Linked DNA regions of Homo sapiens: regions 2, 3 and 4 are each linked to region 1. The links come from fine-mapping of genetic effects on gene expression. A gene starts in region 1. Each other region holds a variant in brackets. All regions are shown on one strand. Distances are from middle to middle.

Region 1 (5,205 bases):
GCACTTTGGGAGGCTGAGGCAGGCGGATTACTTGAGGTCAGCAGTTCGAGACCAGCCTGGCCAATATAGTGAAACCCCGTCTCTACTAAAAATACAAAAATTAGCCGGGCATGGCGGTGGGCGCCTGTAATCCCAGCTCCTGAGGAGGCTGAGGCAGGAGAATCGCTTGAATCTGGGAGGCGGAGATTGCGGTGAGCTGAGATCGCACCATTATACTCCAGCCTGGACAAGAGCGAAACTCCTTTTCAAAAAAACAAAAAACAAAAAAAAAAAGGTAGGCCGAGCACAGTGGCTCACACCTGTAATTCCAGCACCTTGGGAGGCCGAGATGGACACATCACTTGAGGTCAGGAGGTCGATACCAGCCTGGCCAACATGGTGAAACTCCTCCGTCTCTACTAAAAAAGAACATACAAAATAAAATTAGTCGGGAGTGGTGGCGGGCGGCTATAATCCTGGCTACCTGGGAGGCTGAGGCAGGAGAAGTGTTTGAAACCATGAGGGAGAGGTGGCAGTGAGCCGAGATCGAGCCACTGCACCACTGCACTCCAGCCTGGGCGACAGAGCGAGAGTCCGTCTCAAAAAAAAAAAAAAGTCAAGTTCCGTAAAGCACTTACAACAGTGTCCGGCACTCAGTAAGCGCTTCAGAAGTACTGTCATAAATATCAAAGGACTGGAATGAAAATTATAAAAATTATGGTACTAAAAACTTCCACAAAGTTATTTAGAAGTACAACCTCTGCTCAGTCAGTTGGAGTATAAATAAAAAGAAAAAAATTAAAAGTACAACCATTTCTCCATAAAGTGTTATGAAGTTATGTGTGACATTTCTAAACTTTTTAATTTACGTGTGAAAAAATTACATTAGAAAAAACCTGAATCCAGTTAGAACACCCACTGTACGACTCTCAATTGTTTGCAAATTTGCTTCCAAAACTCAGGAATGCACTACTCAACTGAGGCCGCATTTGAGAGCACACACTCAATACTTCCTCCAATAAAAGAAATTTTCATCTCAGCTGTACACTCAGAGACCAGGATTTTTTTCGCCTATATGTTGATAAAACCCAATGACGCATAGCTGAGCAAGTCTTTCACCTAACAGCACACCAAGCTTCTAATGGAAAATTCACAGACCAGGTGATGCAGTCACCATACAGCATACAGACACAATATTTGCACTCTTCCTATCCCCTCCCCTGGAATCCAGACTCAGCCTGCTCACTCTGAAAGCTTTCTCAGTTCATCCTGCCATTTGCCCCTTCTCCCAAGCCACCTCTACACCCGGGGGTGAGTTATTAAAAAGAACATGTTTATTGATAAATACAACACTTTATTTATTTGCACACAAGTTATCCACTTCCTTGCTACTCAAAGATAGTCCCTTGTCCAGCTGCACATGTTATCAGAAATGTACAATATCAAAATGCACCATAGGCCTACTGAACCAGAAAATGCATTTTTAATAAGAGCCCCAAGTGATTCCCACCCACATTAAGGTTTGAGTGTTCTGTGATACTGCAGATAGCTGTAAAAATTAAAAATGCTCAAGTTTACAAATGAATTCAGAGATATGGTATGAAAAGTACCAAGACACGGAATCAGAAAAGCCCAAAGAGAAAAACCAATATATAAATGAATTTCTTTGCCACCGATAGCAAAGGCTCATTTTTCAACAATACCTATTTATTGCTTCCTGCTTTAAGTATTTTGTGCAAGAGCACAACACTTATAAAGGTTTACAAAAGAATTACCGGGTCTAGAAATTCCAGGCAACCTGGTCCAAACGTGTGAAACCTGCATGTTAAAATCTTAGGATTTTGTCCAATTCAGAGTTGACAAATGAACTCTTTCCAGAAAGTTATTATTCGAAAAAAACCTACAGGATGTTAACTTTAAACACAGATTATAATTCCTGTAACTAAAACGAGTAACTGGTATCGAACAAATTCTAGGTCACTTGTAGAATCGAATCTTGTAGTGAAGGTCTGTGTGTTTTTCCAGGAAAAGTCGGGGTGGGGAGCGGGATTTGCCCTCCCTGCGAATTTTTTTTTTTTTTTTTTTTTTTTTTTTTTTGCTCTTATCCTGAAAGACCTCCGTTTCTTACGTGTGAATAAACTTAAGTCGTACTAAATCCAGGTCACGGTTCCCTTCCTCAAAAGTGAAGTCAAGGCTTCTCTCTTCTAAAGACTATTAAGGTTTGAGGATTCAGGGCCCGTTTCGCTTCCGGCTAGGGAAGGAAGCGTGCTTCCCGGGGCCCAAATGAACATGGAAATTTACTAAGTAGGAAGTTGAGCACTAGTCCAGCCGCCAGGCCCTGCCTTTACTGCAGTTGGCCTTCCAGTCTAGACCCCGACCTCCTGGGGCAGGGAAAGCAGGCAGACTGCAAGCAGCCACCCCGCCCAGCTCGCCCTGCCCGCCCTGCCCGCCAGGGAGCTGAAGGGTCCACCCCTCCCGCCATCCACCCCCGACGCCGACTCCGAGGCGCACAAACGGGGGGCGGTGCGGCAACCCGTCCGCCGTGGCGGCGGCACCCTCAGGCCCTCCCGTGAGAAGGCGGCGGCGGCTGCGGCTGCAGCAGCGGCGCGAAGGGGGGCGAAACCTGTCCTGAGGCTGAGTGGGAGGCCGGGGCGGGAACGACTGCATGTGGGGCTGCACTGGAGGAAGGCGGAGGCGTTCAGAGGGCTTGGGCTTTTTTACGATCATCATCATTATTTTATTTTACCTGTGGCGCAGAAGGGCTCCCCAGCTCCTATTCCCTGAATCCTCCTCCTCCTCCCCTCCTCTTTCTCTCTCTCTCCCTCAGTCTGCAGGGCGCTCGCGGAAGCGGCCGGGCCCGGCCCGACCTGAAAGAGAACAGGGCGGGAGGGGGTGGCGGCGGTGACCAGCGGCCACGTGACCACGCTCGCGCCGTAACGGCGGCCGCCTCCCGCCGCGCGCCCTCCCCGCGCTCCACCTCTAATAACCTCGCGGCCCGCGCGCCTGGGAAGCTCGTGCGCAGGCGCCCGCACGGGACCTGAAGTCTGCGCGCGAGCGCAACGCGCTCGCTCTCGGGTCCGGGTTTCTGGGGCCCGCGAGGCGCGAGAAGCGAGTAGGTGGGGAGTGAGCCGCGGGCAGAGCTCTCCTTGGCTGAGCCGGCAGGCTGCTGAGCGCATGCGCCTGAGGGCTTTTACCCCTCCCTTCTCTCCCTGCTTCCAACCGGCGCGCGGCTGGAGGCTGGGAACCAGCTCCTGGGTCTTAGTCAGAGGTTCACATCCACCAACTATCTTCCCAGGGTTGGACTGAGAAGGGGAGCAGAGGGTCCCAGGGACTCTCCTGAGATCCTGGCTCTCCTGCCAAGGAATTTACATTTCCTTGTCACAGGTAAATGGCCTTCCATGCCACATTTTTCTGTGGCTGAGTAGGCTTCTAACTCAGCTCATCTGTCACTTTCTCCGTGAAACTTACCCCTGCCTACTTTAGAGGAGTCACTAGCACTTTGTGCAGACCTACCTTGTAGTACAACCCATAGAAAGATAAAGGTTAGGAGTTATTTTTTCACAAGCCCACAATACTAGACTGTGGTTTCTATCTTTATCTCATAAACTTGGACAGGGTCTTCAGTGTTGTAGTATCTCCCTAAACGTCTGATGACTATCAGAACACAGGGAATGTCTAAAACTTTTATCGTTGCCCTTGGTCTCTGCATAATCATGATTTAAGATCCCCTTTAACCCAAGCACGTGGGAAGGTGGTGTTTGTTTCCCCAGTATGAAAGCCTTTAAATCATAATGTTAATTAGAGTGGTAAATGCTTCACTTAGTAAAAGAGATTTATGGTATTTTATTAGCTTATCTTCACAAAGAGCTCCAACGAAAATTGATACTGTTTAGTCCAGAAAAGGAAACCAAGTCAGAGAAAGGTCAGATTTCTGAAGGTTATCTAGCTTCAGAGGAAGATGCCTGTGTGGGAGACCTTTGTGGACAAACACCCCACTTCACACAGAGATCCCTCTTTTTCTGTTGCCCCTCTTTCTGTTGCAGAAACTGAACAGGTTAAGTTAGTGCCTGTGGCCAGATTTAATCCGGCCAGATTTATTTATTTATCAAATAAATAAAATGTAAAAACTCCCTAATTGGGAGTTCTGGCTAGACCAGTCATCATCACTGTTAGACTGGTGAATACTGAGATGATAGTCAAGAAATGGGGCTAGCAACAAAATGACAGAAAATCCTGGGATGAATGTATATGAAGAAATAGGATTAACAGAGGCTTCTGAGAAACTAGGAAAATGACAACCCTCAAGATTCCATTCTCAAATGTTTACAAAGCTGTTGGACTCTTTTCTGCATTTACCACTGTATACACCCACAGACTGATCCCACCTCATAGTTTCAGCTACCACACAGGTTATGCTAATGGCATCCCATTCTAAATATTCAGCCCAAGATTCAGACCTTGTGGTAGACTATTTTCTTATGGCACACAATTAACTGTGCCTCCCAGTATTCATGCCCATGTATAGTCCTCTGCCCTTGAGTCTGGGCCGGACCTGTCACCTGCCTTAAACAATCAAATATGGCAAAAATTACTCTCTGTCACTTCTAGGCCTAGGCCTTTAAAGACTTTGCAGGGCCAGGCGCGGTGGCTCACGCCTGTAATCCCAGCACTTTGGGAGGCCAAGGCGGGTGGATCACGAGGTCAGGAGATTGAGACCATCCTGGCTAACACAGTGAAACCCCGTCTCTACTAAAAATACAAAAAATTAGCCAGGCATGGTGGCACACGCCTGTAGTCCCAGCTACTCGGGAGGCTGAGGCAGGAGAATGGTGTGAACCCAGGAGGTGGAGGTTGCAGTGAGCCGAGATCGCGCCACTGCACTCCAGCCTGGGCGACAGAGTGAGACTCCGTCTCAAAAAAAAAAAAAAAAAAAAAAAAAAAAAGGCTTTGCAGTGACAACTTTGAACTTTACCAGAGACTCATGGGAAACAGAAATAGTTAAGAAATCCCACCACCTTTTTGTGTTCTGCGAAACAGTTTACCACAAAGACCAATCCTTCTCCATATTACTTAAATGAGACTCATTGTCCAGTTTCTCTGATAAAACTAGTAGATGACCTGTGACAAGACCAAACACATACCTTTCCTTTTTTCCCGAACCTGTGGGGAAGGTCAGTCACCTTTCAACTTCCTATTTGTCTCATGAATGATTAGCTAGGATTAGAA
Region 2 (5,205 bases), 55 kb before region 1:
TACAGCAGTCAAATTTATTCGTCAAGAATCCAAATCTGAGTTGGACTTCATTTCTCTGAACTGTCCTAAAAACATTCCAGTAGTAGAACAGATTTGCCATTAAAATAAAATAACCAAGACTTATTCATTTTAAAACAAGTAAAAAATGCAGATCTGTTCTTTAAAGACACAAAGGGTAATGCAGACTGAGGTTTACATGTTCAATCACTGTTTATAAATGATAGGCTATATCATTAATTTGTAAGTGACTCTAAAATGAGTATGCACATAATACACAAACATTCTACCACTGGTAACTCTAAATAGGTAAATTTAAAGCTAAAAAAAGCTGAAATTTTATCTCTGCCATAAATTTAAAAAAAATCCATGAGCATTGCAATGACTATACTTTTGCCTTAGAGCTGATACTTTAATTTTCAAGAACCACAAAGAAAAAAATCAAAACTAGTCAGTAACAATGCAGCGTCTAAAAGCAATAAACTCAAAATTAACTTATAAATAATTTAAAGGATGTCGTGAAGATGTATTAATAATTCATCAGATAAATAATTTACTAAATAATCAAATAAATAAATAATGAAATACATAAATAAAACAGCAAATAAATAATTCTGCAAAATAACCTAAATAATAAGTCACCCAAACATATCACAACCTACAAAGCTACAATGATTTTCCGGATTTTGATAATTTAAATAAGCAAATGTACATAAGTTAGATCAATCCTTGTTAGAATTAGAAATATTTTTCAATACTATTGGTAAAATCCTCATCTCAATACATATGAACACATTTTCAATGTTTAAAAGACTGCATAGGATTAGTTCTCATACATCATTAATATAATTATAATACAACTGCCTTGATATTATATATATCTTTCTCTAACATATTTTCCCTCAAACAACTGGACACTCAAGACATTCTTAACTTACACTTCTTTTTCAAAGAAATACCTACAATATAATAATGCTACAGCCTTTCTGACAGTTTTCCTATCTTCACCAAATCTTTAGAAATTTTCTGCAGGAGAATAATAAGAAGAGCCTTAATTATTACAGATGGCATTTCATTCACTAGTGGACAATGTTTTACAATTCTAAAAATAATGGGAAGTCGACATTATTAGTCATAAACTATGTCAAGATTTTTAGAAGTCTTCAGTGGACTAACTTCAACTTGACAGTATCCAACTTTCTCTATTGGGGCTGACACACAAGCTGTTACAATTGGCGGGATTTCAGACGTGAAAGACAAAAACTTCAAAGGACAAAGTGATTGGCTGACATCTAATGCTATCTTCAATCTGGGAAGCTCAAAGTCCTTGAAAGAACACGATGAGATCCCTTAACTGTTACAATCTGAATGTAGTCACAATCTAATTAGGGTACCATAAAGGGTCAAAACACAACTGACCTCATAAATCAGCCTTCATTTAACAAAGGTTTTATCTACCCATAGTATAGCATTCTTTATATCCTTAAATAGTAGATCCCAAGTTATGATAGCTGTTCCCATAGAAATAATAACTTTGTGATAGGTTTTTGACACACTGAAGGGACTACATTAAAACAATATAGTACGCTTGAAGAGAAGGAAATTAACCTAATTTACTAATTAATTAAAGTGTTTTATATAATTTATCTTAGTGAATTCTCACAACAATCTTTCAAGTTAGGTAACATTTTACCTATTTTTCAGTGAAGGAAACTGAGGCCCAGTAAAATTATGTATACTGCCTACAGTGCCCAAGTGGCAGGAAAGATCCACATTTTGCCTACACAATCTTCAGTGGGAAGATTCATTAAGCTATAGAGCCCTTAAATTTAGGCCAAACCTGAAAAATTTAGAAAATTCTAAAACACCTATATTGTTAAAGCATGGGTTCTCAACTAAGGGTGACTTTGTTTCTTAAGGGACATTTGGCAATGCGTGGAGGCATTTTGTGTGTCACAACTAGGGAGAATTACTGACATCTAGTGGGTAGAGGTCAGGGATGCTGCTAAACATCCTACAATGCACAGGATGGCTCCTACAACAAGGAATTATCTAGCCTAAAATGTTAGTAGTGATGAGGGTAGGAAACCCTGAATTAAAGTAACATGTATGGTTTTCCTATTACAAAATAATATATATTTGGTTAATAGATGTAGAGTCTTTTTTCTATGTATAATATGTATAGTGAAATATCCTGGATAAAAAAAGTGTATCCTTGGGAGACCGGGTATATGGGAACCCTTTGTACTTTCTGCTCCATTTTTCTCTAAAGCTAAAACTGCTCAAAAACTATCTTATTTTTTCAAATATGTATTCTTCACTTATATGACTAAAGTTATGATTACCTTTCTTAGAATCAATATTAAACAGTAAGTCTACAGTCATAAAAAATGTTTTCTAAAAATTTCATATATCAAAATGTTTTCAACAAGTTAATATGAGAGCATTAAAAGCTAAATTTAGCCAGACATGGTGGCTCACACCTGTAATCCCAACACTTTAAGAAACCAAGGAATGACAAAAATGTATGTTTCCTTATATTTGACCTGTTATATTATCATATAGAGGCTTTAAATAATAGTATACTTTGTCAGCTAGGATTAGGTCACATCCCTCCCAAATCAATAAAAATAATAATCAAATAATAACAAGGAGAGGGGGAAAAAAGGAGGGAGGAGACAAATTTATTTCTCCCATGTAAATGTCCAGAAGAAGAAAATCACAGGCTGATATGGCAGCTCCAACTATAAGGGGCCCAAGTTCCTTCCACCTTTTTGCTCTACCGTACAGTTTCTATTCAAAGTCACCTCATATTCCAAGAAGGCTATGAGAATTGCAGCTAATCTACCTACATTGCAGGCAGCAGGAAGAAGTCTGAAAGGAGAAGAAAAGCCCTCCCTATTCTCTTATCTCACACAATATTCCACCTTATATCTTATAAACCATAAACTTAGCCCTTTGGTCACACTTAACCACTTGGAAGGCCAGGCAATGTAGTCTGTAACACTGTCAATATACTCAGCTATAAAACTGGGATTCTTTTGTAACTAAGGAAGACAGAATAAATTTTGTGAGGTGAATTAAAATAGGCAGACTGCAGTAAAAGTTACAA[C/A]TCTTCAAAGAAAATGAAAGAGGTACTGAAAGATTTTCATTAGAGAAGTTCACTGCAAATTAATGAAAATGAAGGAAAAGATATTTAACAATAGAAGAATGGTTAAATTTAGGGATAATCTTAGAATCGAATGCTATGATTTCACTAAATATCACTTTGAAGAATTTTACTGATATGGAGAACTGTTCACAGTATTAAATAAAAAAATATAAACTATTTCATATACAATAACCCATTTCATATCAATATACATATATACAAATACATATACTAGTATATATATACACATACATATAGGCCCATCATATAGCTATATCTAGAGAGACTGAGACCATATAAAACTTAAGAAAATAAAAACTAAACTGATACTAGTGGTTTAGCTCTCCTTTGAGGAATTGTAACTAAATTTTACTTTATCCATACATTTCATTAATTTCTAGTTTTTCTACAATGAATACATACTATGTGTATTGATTATTTTTCATAAAAATGTTGGCACAGATGAAGAAGCAATCAGCCACCTTAGAAAAGTGGTTAGGTTCAGGCTTCAATTTATTTTATTACCTAGAATTCACTGATTTAAACAATGGCATGGAGCATCTACATCTGAGCTGTATCTTTACCAACCGGGGCAAAACATAGATGTTTCTCTTTAGGCAGTACTAAGAAGCCAACTTCTCTGTGCCCAACTTGTATTCAACTTACTAGCATTCACATATCACGTTTGTCAGCTTTGCACAAGTCACTCCTAACCAGATGCTACATCCATCATTCCTAACAATGTACCCCGACATATTGATTACTTTGCTCATCTCATTCTGTGGAACTAATCATTTGTCCTTCATGCTTCTACAAATCCTTCCACTTTCTATATTTCTCAGCCTATTTTTAAAATTTCTACCCTACTGTACATTTTTCTGGTTACTTGTATAATGAACACATCTAACATAAATTATATCTTTCTTATATTTTTAAAACTATCTTGAATTGTCCCGAATTTTCCAGAGTTACTACTGGGTACACAGAGAATTGTTATATTGGCATTAATTCCATTGGCTGAAACTCCATAATTACCATTAATAGAGTCTCATAATTTAGAATGCTTCAAAATTTTCCATATTTTCTAGAGTGATTTACTTTCCAAAATCCCCATTATCACCATAAAAGAAATGGAAAAACAAAGGAAAAGACATTCAAAGCTACTAACAAGTGCATGGAGTTGGCCAAAATAGCAAACAAACAAAAAAGTGAAATAGATGGACCCAGTCCTCTAGAAAATGCGTTAGACACTCACAACAAAGTCCGGGCACAATGGCTCACGACTGTAATCCCAGCACTTTGGGAGGCCAAAGTGGGCAGATTGCTTCAGTCCAGGAATTTGAGATCAGTGGACAACATGGCGAAACCCCGTCTATTCTAAAAATACAAAAAATTAGCTAGGCATGGTGCTGTGTGCCTATGGCCCCAGCTAGCCAGGAGGCTGAAGCTGGAGGATCGCTTGAGTTGGGAAGGTCAAGGCTGCAGTGGGCCCTGCCTGGGCGACAGAGTGAGACCCTGTCTCAAAAAAAAAAAAAAAAAAGAAAAGAAAAAGAGAAAAAAGGGAGGGAGGGGAATTCATAACAAAATGTAATAAAAGATAAATGTATAATTCAGACAATGTATACTACAGAAAATCCAGCAGGTAAAAAGTCACATCAGGCAGGGATAATCAGAAATGCCTCTGTGTCTCAGATCAAAATCATACAGGAATACAATAGTAGTTGTCAACTATGGAAGACACTGCCCCCAGGGGACATTTGGCAATGTCTAGAAAAACTTTAGGTTGTTCCAAATGAGAAATATAACTTGCATCTGGTGAGTAGTGGCCAGGGATGCAGCTGAACATACCTAAACCTATCATCCCTAAACATACCTAAACATACAACAAACAGGATAGGACCCCTCCCCCCCAAAAAATCAGTTATTCAGCCCAAAACGTCAACAGTGCTAGAAGGACCAGTATGAGCGAAAAAGAAGAGATAGCATTTAATCAGTATAAAAGGATATGAATAAAAGAATTGTTGCTATAATACATGATGCTTTAATAAGTCATAACA
Region 3 (5,000 bases), 270 kb before region 1:
AGATTTCTGAGTTATAAACTTAACTGAGATAAACGAGCTTCATCATAAGCTGAGTTTATGTTTGTCCTAAAATGTCCATCATATCTTTGTTTTCCTTTGGGCAAAATGGGAAAATCATACCCTGTTTTCTATTTAATTCATTAAAAATTGAACATTATGTGATTTATTATAAGTTTTCTGTACTAGGTATGAACATTAGCAATATTTGAAAGAAGGAATCAATTCTCTATCCAAAAGGAAAAAAATAAAGCTGATATTCAAAAGTAAAAGAAATGAACAGCAACATAGAGAAAACATGAAAATAATAAAGAACGACTCCAATCTTCAGAAGATATATTTAGACAGTTTCACATAAATAAAAACTTTATGTTCAACCAACCAACAATTCACACTTAAATCTATTTTAATGCATCATTGACATCGAAAGTAAAAAACAGGCAAGGACAGGAGAAGCACAGGCTTTCAGAAAGAGAAAAATTAAACTGAATGTCAATGGGCAAGGACACGTTAAGACTTATGATATACATTGCCAAATGGAATGCCGGAAGGATAATACCAATCTATATTGCCACAAAACCTATGTGAAAATCTCCAATTCCCTAGACCTCAAGCAAAGCCCAGTTGCATTACTTTTTTTAACGTAACAATGTGGAAGAAAAAAAAGAAAAACAAGAAACAAACTTGCTTTAATGTCATTCCTTATATGGCAAATGAGGTCACTCTGCATTTAATTATTAAGCATCCAAAATATTGCCTAAGAATTGCTAGTTTATGTCCTTTGGTCATTTTTCAATTGTGTTCATATTCCTAACTTGTCTGAATTTTTGGATATTAAAGATATCAAACTCTCATTTACTAATCTCTACATGTTAAGAGTATCCGGTGGTTCTACCTTGCCCCGCCCCACCCGTTTATATATTCCCAAATCTAACACCATCTGCATGGTAACTTCTCCCCAACCTATATCTTAAGACTTTACATCTTCCCAGAATCTCAGACTCATATATCCATCTCCACAAGACAAAAAGTCTAACAGACATCTCAGACGTCACCATACAAGGCAAACAAAACTCTTTATTTCTCCTCCCCACTCACCCCCTCCAAATTTAATTTTCTATCAACTACCAACACTTTAGTAAATGATATCATCTAATTTTCCATCAATTTCCAACACTTTAGTAAATGTTATCACCTCTCTAGTCAGTTGCCCAATGCCAAAAATCTAGGAATCTTTCTAGATAAATCTTTTACCTCACTGCCCTGCAATCATCAACAAGTAGTTTTCTCTACCCTAAATCAAAAATATATCCGGTATCTGTTTAATTATCTTCATTTCCACTACTCCTCTTCCCAGTCTAACCCCACTATCAACTCTCTCCTGAGGATGGCATTCCCAGTCAGAAGCTGAAGAAATTATTTGCACTGCTGATACACATTTGGACTGTTTCCAGTTTTGTTATCATAAACAATGTTCTTACACACAATTCTTGATGCAGATATGCAATAGTTTCCCTGTGTTCCTAGGGTATGGTCATATTCAATTTTCTTGTAATGCCAAGTTATTTCCAAAATGTTTGAACCAACTTTAACTCCTATCAGCAACGTAACAGAGCTCACGTTTCTTCACACGGTGGCAAACTCACATTAATTGATTTTTGCCAATCTAGAGGTTATCATATGTTATCTGACAGGGATTTTATTTAAATTCTTCATACATATATGGCTATTGCATGGTTCCTTTACTACAAAATATAGGCCTTTTTCATGCCATTTTCATATTGATTCATAAGAATTCTTCATACCTCTTGGATGCTAAACTTTTTTTAGTTTTGTATATTATCATCTTTTCTTAGACTGTGGTTTGTATTTTCACTCTGTTTACAGTATCTTCTCATAATAGTTTTTGATTTTGCAATAATTTAATTCTATATATATATTTTTTCCTTTTTGATATTTGAAATTATATTTTCTTCTAAAAGTTTTATAGTTTTGCTTTACACATTTAAGTTTTTAATTTAGGAGAATTTGGTATTGTTAGTAAGATGTGAGAAAATAATTCATTTTTGTTTTCCACCCAAATGAAAAATCAGTTGTCCTCTGCACCACTTAATGAAGATGCCATTCTTTCACCACTGATCTATAATTTCAGCTCTGTCATGTATTTGGTTTTCATGTAAGTTTGAGTCTATCTGTCTATCTGTTCTTCCCACTAGTCTATTTATCAAGTCATGAGCCATTATCATATTACCTAGTTATATAAAATGTGCATGTTTTTTTTCAGAAATGTCTTGACTATTGTACCTTTTTTCTATTAAATACTTGAATGACCTGCCAAGTTACTAAAAATAACAAATCAATGTAAAAATTTTGACTGAAAAATACACTGAATCTATAGATCAATTTGGGGAAAACCTAATAACTCTGTGACAATAAGTCTTCTCATCCATGATCATGGTGTGTCCTCTATATTTATTCAGGTCTTCTTAAATGTCTTCCAATGAAGTTTCATAAC[G/A]TTCTCCACAAAAACTACCACATAGTTTACTGATTTATTGAAGGTTTACTCATATTTTTGTACTGTTATAAATGCTGTATCTTTATTGCTGGTATATTTGTAAGTGCGACTGATTTTGCACACGTTATATAACAAGGAATATAGGTAAACTAAATTATTAAATTCTAATAATTTATGTGTAGATTTTTATTTCTAATTTTAAAGAGAAAACTTTTAACATTTTACATTGAGAAGGATTTTAGTGTAATTCTTTTATAAATGTCCTTCTTCATATTAAAGAAGGTCTCCTCAATCCACAGTTTGTTAACAGTTATTTTATCACAAACTTATGTGAATTTTTTTAATGTTTCCCCTACAACTACTGAAATGACTTTTCCACTTTGCTAATAAGCTAAATTACAAAAATAGATTTTCCCTAAGTACTAACCTTGCATTCCCAGGATAAACAAAATTTGGTAAAATATGTTTATCTTTTTACCCATGCTGGATTCTGTTTACTAATATTTTATTTTTATCCATATTCATGAGCAAGAATGGACTGTACTTTTTCATAATGCTCTTGACTGATATTGTTACAAAGGTTATACCAGTCACGTAATATAAATTTGAAAACATTCCCTATTTTTCAATTCTCTGAAAGAATTTTCTCTTTATGTTTTCTAGAAATCATCTGTCCCCAAATTGGGATTGGTGTTTTCTGTCTGGGATTATAATTATTTATTCCATTACATCAATGGTTATAGTATCACGCAGAAACTTATCTCTTCTTTTATATTTTAAAACTTGTGATACAACTGTATAAGTCATTGTATGTCCGTTATAAAAATCACTTAATCAAATAACCAACTTTTCTCATTTTTAAAATTTTCATACATACTTAATGGCTACATATCCATTTATGTAACCATAGTTTTTGATGTGTAAAATATAACCTAGAAAGCAATGTGTATACACATTACCCATAATAAATGTTTACTATATTGTTTAACAAGTTTAGAAGTATGTATACACATTGCTTTCTAGGTTATATTTTACTGAACTGAACTCTATTTCAATAATTCTTGTCTTTATAGAAATGTATCCACTACACCTTAGTTTTCCAATTCATAGTCATAAAAATGTTCACATAAGAGAATACTTGTATTGTCTTTTTAACCAGTTCATAATTCTGAATGGATTTTAGAAAGATATTTTAGAGGTTAAAAGACTCTCTCTAGAAATGTGATTGAAATTAAACTTGATTAAAGAATTTATTTTAAAGACCTCACTATACCTTTTCATATGCAATACATTTTTAATCTGGAAAATCCAGAAATTTAGGAAAACGTTTGTTTTTTTGCTTGTTTCCCATTAGCTGCTTTACTGTTGAGCTCTCATTGCTTCCATTATTTTTCAGTCAATTGTCTTAGGTTTTCAGTTAATTATTTTGTGTCTTTCGGTAATGCCATCTTTTTTTGGCTGATTAACATAAAATATTTACATATCATAAATGTTCATTTATTTTTGAATTAGTATCTGTGAAAAATTGATGGTATTAATGGCCCAATTACTCCCTTCCTAAACATATGACATTCAGGGTGTGACTTTCCAGCTTCTTCCATCAAAAGGTAGTGGCAACATAGTAATACTGAGTCTTCTAATCCATGAACATGAAATGTCTACTTATTTATAACTTTCCTTAATTTCTTCCAGTATTGTTTTATAGTTGTCAGTGTACTTCCTCTACTTTTGGTGTTAAATGTATTCCTAAATATTTAGTTCTTTTAATGCTATCATGAATAGAATTTTTGCTTAAAATTATTATAGGATTGTTCACTGCTAGTATACAAAAATACAATTTTTGCTACCTCTAACAATTTTGCTACCTCTAGCTGGCTTTGTTACTTGTCTTGGCCAAGAAAATGTGGCAGATCTGACAAGGTCACAGTACCAAGTCTAGATCTCATGAAATCCTGAAACCTGGCAGTTTGTTTACTTGGAAAGCTGACATCACCATGTAAACAAGTGATGGCTACCCTGCTGGAGGATGAGACATGTAGCTTACTGAATCTCCAGACACAAGTGACACAATCTTAGATCATCCATTGCTTAGACACGTAAGCAAGCTCAGCTCAGAGTAAGAGAATTACTCAACTTGCTCACTTTACCATTACCCATAATAAATGCTTACTATATTGTGTAACAAGTTTAGAAACAGTACGTCATACAAACCAAGTTAACTGATACACTATCTATGAATAACATGAAATATTAATGCTTGGTAAATAAATGGCTACACAGCTCATTTTAATCACTGAGCTAGATATATGTCATCTGAAAACATGCAAAGGCTGGACGTGGCGGCTCACATCCATAATCCTAGCTTTTGGGGTGGCAGAGGCAAGAGGATTGTTGAGCCCAGGAATTCAAGACCAGACTGGGCAAAGTACTGAGACCCTGTCTCTACAAAAATAAATTTAAAAATTAGCCAGGCATGGTAGCACATACC
Region 4 (5,205 bases), 43 kb before region 1:
AAAAATGATAAAGGGGATATCACCACCTATTACACAGAAATACAAACTACCATCAGAGGATACTATAAACACCTCTAGGCAAATAAACTAGAAAATCTAGAAGAAATAGATGAATTCCTGGATACATACAAGACTAAACCAAGACTAAACCAGCAAGAAGTTGAATCTCTGAATAGAACAATCACAGGCTCTGAAATTGAGGCAATAATTAACAGCCTACCAACCAAAAAAAAGTCCAGGACCAGACGGATTCACAGCTAAATTCTACCAGAGGTACAAAGAGGAGCTGGTACCATTCCTTCTGAAAGTATTCCAATCAATAGACAAAGAGGAAATCCTCCCTAACTCATTTTATGAGGCCAACATCTTCCCGATACCAAAGCCTGGCAGAGACACAACAGAAAAAAAGAATTTTAGACCAATATCTCTGAAGAACATTGATGTGAAAATTCTCAATAAAATACTGGCAAACCGAATCCAGCATCACATCAAAAAGCTTACCCACCATGATCAAGTCAGCTTCACCCCTGGGATGCAAGGCTGATTCAACATACGCAAATCAATAAACATAATCCATCACATAAACAGAACCAATGATAAAAACCACATGATTATCTTAATAGATGCAGAAAAGGCCTTCGACAAAATTCAACAGTATTTCATGCTAAAAACTCTCAATAAACTAGGTATTGATGGAACATATCACAAAATACTAAGAGCTATTTATGACAAACCCACAGCCAATATCATACCGAATGGGCAACAACCGGAAGCATTTCCTTGGAAAATCGGCACAAGACAAGGATGCCCTCTCTCACCACTCGTATTCAACATAGGGTTGGAAGTTCTGGCCAGGGCAATCAGGCAAGACAAAGAAATAAAAGGTATTTAATTAGGAAAAGAGGAAGTCAAATTGTCCCTGTTTGCAGATGACATGATTGTATATTTAGAAAACCCCATCGTCTCAGCCCAAAATCTCCTTAAGCTGATAAGCAACTTCAGCAAAGTCTCAGGATACAAAATCAATGTGAAAAAATCACAAGCATTCCTATATACAAATAACAGACAAACAGAGAGCCAAATCACAAGTGAATTCCCATTCACAATTGCTACCAAGAGAATAAAATGCCTAAGAATCCAACTTACAAGGGATGTGAAGGACTTCTTCAAGGAGAACTACAAACCACTGCTCAATGAAATAAAAGAGGATACAAACAAATGGAAGAACATCCCACGCTCACGGATAGGAAGAATCAATATTGTGAAAATGGCCATACTGCCCAAGGTAATTTATAGATTCAATGCCATCCCCATCAAGCTACCAATGACTTGCTTCACAGAATTGGAAAAAACTACTTTAAAGTTCATGTGGAACCAAAACAGAACCCGCGTTGCCAAGACAATCCTAAGCAAAAAGAACAAAGCTGTAGGCATCACACTACCTGACTTCAAAATACACTACAAGGCTACAGTAACCAAAACAGCATGGTACTGGTTCCAAAACAGAGATATAAACCAATGGAAAAGAACAGAGGCCTCAGAAAGAATACCACAATGGCCATACTGCCCAAGGTAATTTACAGATTCAATGCCATCCCCATCAAGCTACCAATGACTTTCTTCACAGAATTGGAAAAAACTACTTTCAAGTTCATATGGAACCAAAAAAGAGCCCACATTGCCAAGTCAATCCTAAGCCAAAAGAACAAAGCTGGAGGCATCATGCTACCTGACTTCAAACTATACTACAAGGCTACAGTAACCAAAGAAGCATGGTACTGGTCCCAAAACAGAGATATAGATCAATGGAACAGAACAGAGCCCTCAGAAATAACGCCGCATATCTACAACTATCTGATCTTTGACAAACCTGACAAAAACAAGCATTGGGGAAAGGATTCCCTATTTAATCAATGGTGCTGGGAAAACTGGCTAGCCATATGGAGAAAGCTGAAACTGGAACCCTTCCTTACACCTTATACAAAAATCAATTCAAGATGGATTAAAGACTTAAACGTTAGACCTAAAACCATAAAAACCCTAGAAGAAAACCTAGGCATTGCCATTCAGGATATAGGCATGGGCAAGGACTTCATGTCTAAAACACCAAAAGCAATGGCAACAAAAGCCAAAATTGACAAATGGGATCTAATTAAACTAAAGAGCTTCTGCACAGCAAAAGAAACTACCATCAGAGTGAACAGGCAACCTACAAAATGGGAGAAAATTTTCGCAACCTACTCATCTGACAAAGGGCTAATATCCAGAATCTACAATGAACTCAAACAAATTTACAAGAAAAAAACAAACAACCCCATCAAAAAGTGGGCAAAGGATATGAACCGACACTTCTCAAAAGAAGACATTTATGCAGCCAAAAGACACATGAAAAAATGCTCATCATCACTGGCCATCAGAGAAATGCAAATCAAAACCACATGAGATATCATCTCACACCAGTTAGAATGGCAATCATTAAAAAGTCAGGAAACAACAGGTGCTGGAGAGGATGTGGAGAAATAGGAACACTTTTACACTGTTGGTGGGAC[T/G]GTAAACTAGTTCAACCATTGTGGAAGTCAGTGTGGCGATTCCTCAGGGATCTAGAACTCGAAATACCATTTGACCCAGCCATCCCATTACTGGGTATATGCCCAAAGGACTATAAATCATGCTGCTATAAAGACACATGCCCACGTATGTTTATTGCGGCATTATTCACAATAGCAAAGACTTGGAACCAACCCAAATGTCCAACAATGATAGACTGGATTAAGAAAATGTGGCACATATACACCATGGAATACTATGCAGCCATAAAAAATGATGAGTTCATGTCCTTTGTAGGGACATGGATGAAATTGGAAATCATCATTCTCAGTAAACTATCGCAAGAACAAAAAACCAAACACCACATATTCTCACTCATAGGTGGGAATTGAACAATGAGAACACATGGACACAGGAAGGGGAACATCACACTCTGGGGACTGTTGTGGGGTGGGGGGAGGGGGGAGGGATAGCATTGGGAGATATACCTAATGCTAGATGACGAGTTAGTGGGTGCAGCGCACCAGCATGGCACATGTATACATATGTAACTAACCTGCACATTGTGCACATGTACCCTAAAACTTAAAGTATAATAATAATAAATAGATTTTTAAAATTACCATAATAATTGACCTATTATCCTCTATGAGTCTCATCATCTGATACAGATTTATTCTCAATTATATAAAAATCATCAGTTATTGTTAAATAAGAAACTCAGTATATGTAGATCCTCCAGTCTCTTGGATTTACATATATAGTTTTAATTGTCCAATAATATTGTAAAAGTTAATATCCTTTCAATGTATCTGATTTAAAATTACCACAGAGTATTGTGGGATTAAAGGAGTACTGTGTCAAGGGAAAAAAAAAAAAAAGAAAGAAAGTTTTCTCATCTATTCTGGTGACACTGTGGCTGACAGTATCTACTTTAAAATGGAAGTGAGAAAATCCAGCACCCGGATTTCAACCGGGGACCTCTTGATCTGCAGTCAAATGCTCTGCCCCCTGAGATATACCCCCTTCACCTGTTAGAAGCTCCTTCCTTGTCCACTTATGGTGACTCAATACAATCAAGTTCCACCCACACTAGAGTTCTGGCAAGCTATGTGTTCTAAAGCCCCACCTTCTTAATTATCCATCATCTGCTTTGGCTTGTCCCTTGGCCACTAATAAACTGAAAGGGAACACTTGAAAAATGACAGACAAAAAAAAAAAAATACCACACAACTACAACCATCTGATCTTTGACAAACCTGACAAAAACAAGAAATGGGGAAACAATTCCCTATTTAATAAATGGTGCTGGGAAAACTGGCTAGCCATATGGAGAAAGCTGAAACTGGATCCCTTCCTTACACCTTATACAAAAATTAATTCAAGATGGATTAAAGACTTAAATGTTAGACCTAAAACCATAAAAACCCTAGAAGAAAACCTAGGCAATACCATTCAGGACATAGGCATGGGCAAGGACTTCATGTCCAAAACACCAAAAGCAATGACAACAAAAGCCAAAATTGACAAATGGGATCTAATTAAACTAAAGAGTTTCTGCACAGCAAAAGAAACTACCATCAGAGTGAACAGGCAACCTACAGAATAGGAGAAAATTTTTGCAATCTACTCATCTGACAAAGAGCTAATATCCAGAATCTACAAAGAACTCAAACAAATTTACAAGAAAAAAACAAACAACCCCATCAAAAAGTGGGCGAAGGATATGAAAAGACACTTCTCAAAAGAAGACATCTACGCGGCCAACAGACACGTGAAAAAATGCTCATCATCACTGGCCATCAGAGAAATGCAAAGCAAAACCACAATGAGATACCACCTCACACCAGTGAGAATGGCGATCATTAAAAAGTCAGGAAACAACAGGTGCTGGAGAGGATGTGGAGAAATAGGAACACTTTTACACTGTTGGTGGGACTGTAAACCAGTTCAACCATTGTGGAAGACAGTGTGGTAATCCCTCAAAGATCTAGAACTCGAAATACCATTTGACCCAGCCATCCCATTACTAGGTATATACCCAAAGGATTATAAATCATGCTACTATAAAGACACATGCATACGTATGTTTATTGTAGCACTATTCACAATAGCAAAGACTTGGAACCAACCCAAATGTCCATCAATGATGGACTGGATTAAGAAAATGTGGCACATATACACCATGGAATACTATGCAGCCATAAAAAGGATGAGTTCATGTCCTTTGCAGGGACATGGATGAAGCTGGAAACCATCATTCTCAGCAAACTATCACAAGGACAGAAAACCAAATACCACATGTTCTCACTCATAGGTGGGACCTGAACGAGATCACTTGGACATAAGGCGGGGAACATCACACACTGGGGCCTGTTAGGGGGTAGGGGGCTGGAGGAGAGATAGCATTAGGAGAAATACCTAATGTAAATGACGAGCTGATGGGTGCAGCAAACCAAAATAGCACATGTTTACCTATGTATCAAACCTGCACATTCTGCACATGTACCCTAGAACTTAAAGTATAATAATAATAAAAAAAAGTCTCCTGGGTGGCGCACAACTGTAGTTCCAGCTACTACAGAGGCGGAGTTGGGAAGATCGCTTGAGCCCAGGAAGCAGAGGTTGCAGTGAGCCAAGATAGCGCCACTGCACTCC

Evidence for each region. PIP is the estimated chance that this variant, and not a neighbour inherited with it, causes the effect.
Region 2: its variant is the best candidate, but not a certain one, in a credible set for the expression of TBC1D5 in whole blood (TOPMed, PIP 0.66).
Region 3: its variant is the best candidate, but not a certain one, in a credible set for the expression of TBC1D5 in testis (GTEx, PIP 0.52).
Region 4: its variant is the best candidate, but not a certain one, in a credible set for the expression of TBC1D5 in whole blood (INTERVAL, PIP 0.84).

What each region holds. Positions count from the first base shown.
Region 1 is chr3:17,739,756-17,744,960 of GRCh38, forward strand. It overlaps TBC1D5 (TBC1 domain family member 5), which reads right to left and starts at 2,876. Exons shown (of 23, transcript NM_001349074.2): 1 at 2,726-2,876. It overlaps LOC105376975 (a long non-coding RNA gene), which reads left to right and starts at 3,189. Exons shown (of 2, transcript NR_135536.1): 1 at 3,189-3,363. RefSeq lists silencers at 2,363-2,562, 2,793-3,102 and enhancers at 2,562-3,265, 3,223-3,292.
Region 2 is chr3:17,684,849-17,690,053 of GRCh38, forward strand. The region is part of intron 1 of TBC1D5 (TBC1 domain family member 5); the gene reads right to left. Among named protein-coding and RNA genes, the nearest start is that of TBC1D5, 55 kb to the right of the region's middle. The variant C/A (reference allele first, on the strand shown) is at 3,110.
Region 3 is chr3:17,474,279-17,479,278 of GRCh38, forward strand. The region is part of intron 3 of TBC1D5 (TBC1 domain family member 5); the gene reads right to left. Among named protein-coding and RNA genes, the nearest start is that of TBC1D5, 270 kb to the right of the region's middle. The variant G/A (reference allele first, on the strand shown) is at 2,513.
Region 4 is chr3:17,696,400-17,701,604 of GRCh38, forward strand. All of the region lies in intron 1 of TBC1D5 (TBC1 domain family member 5), which reads right to left. It also overlaps the pseudogene TRC-GCA25-1. Among named protein-coding and RNA genes, the nearest start is that of TBC1D5, 44 kb to the right of the region's middle. The variant T/G (reference allele first, on the strand shown) is at 2,550.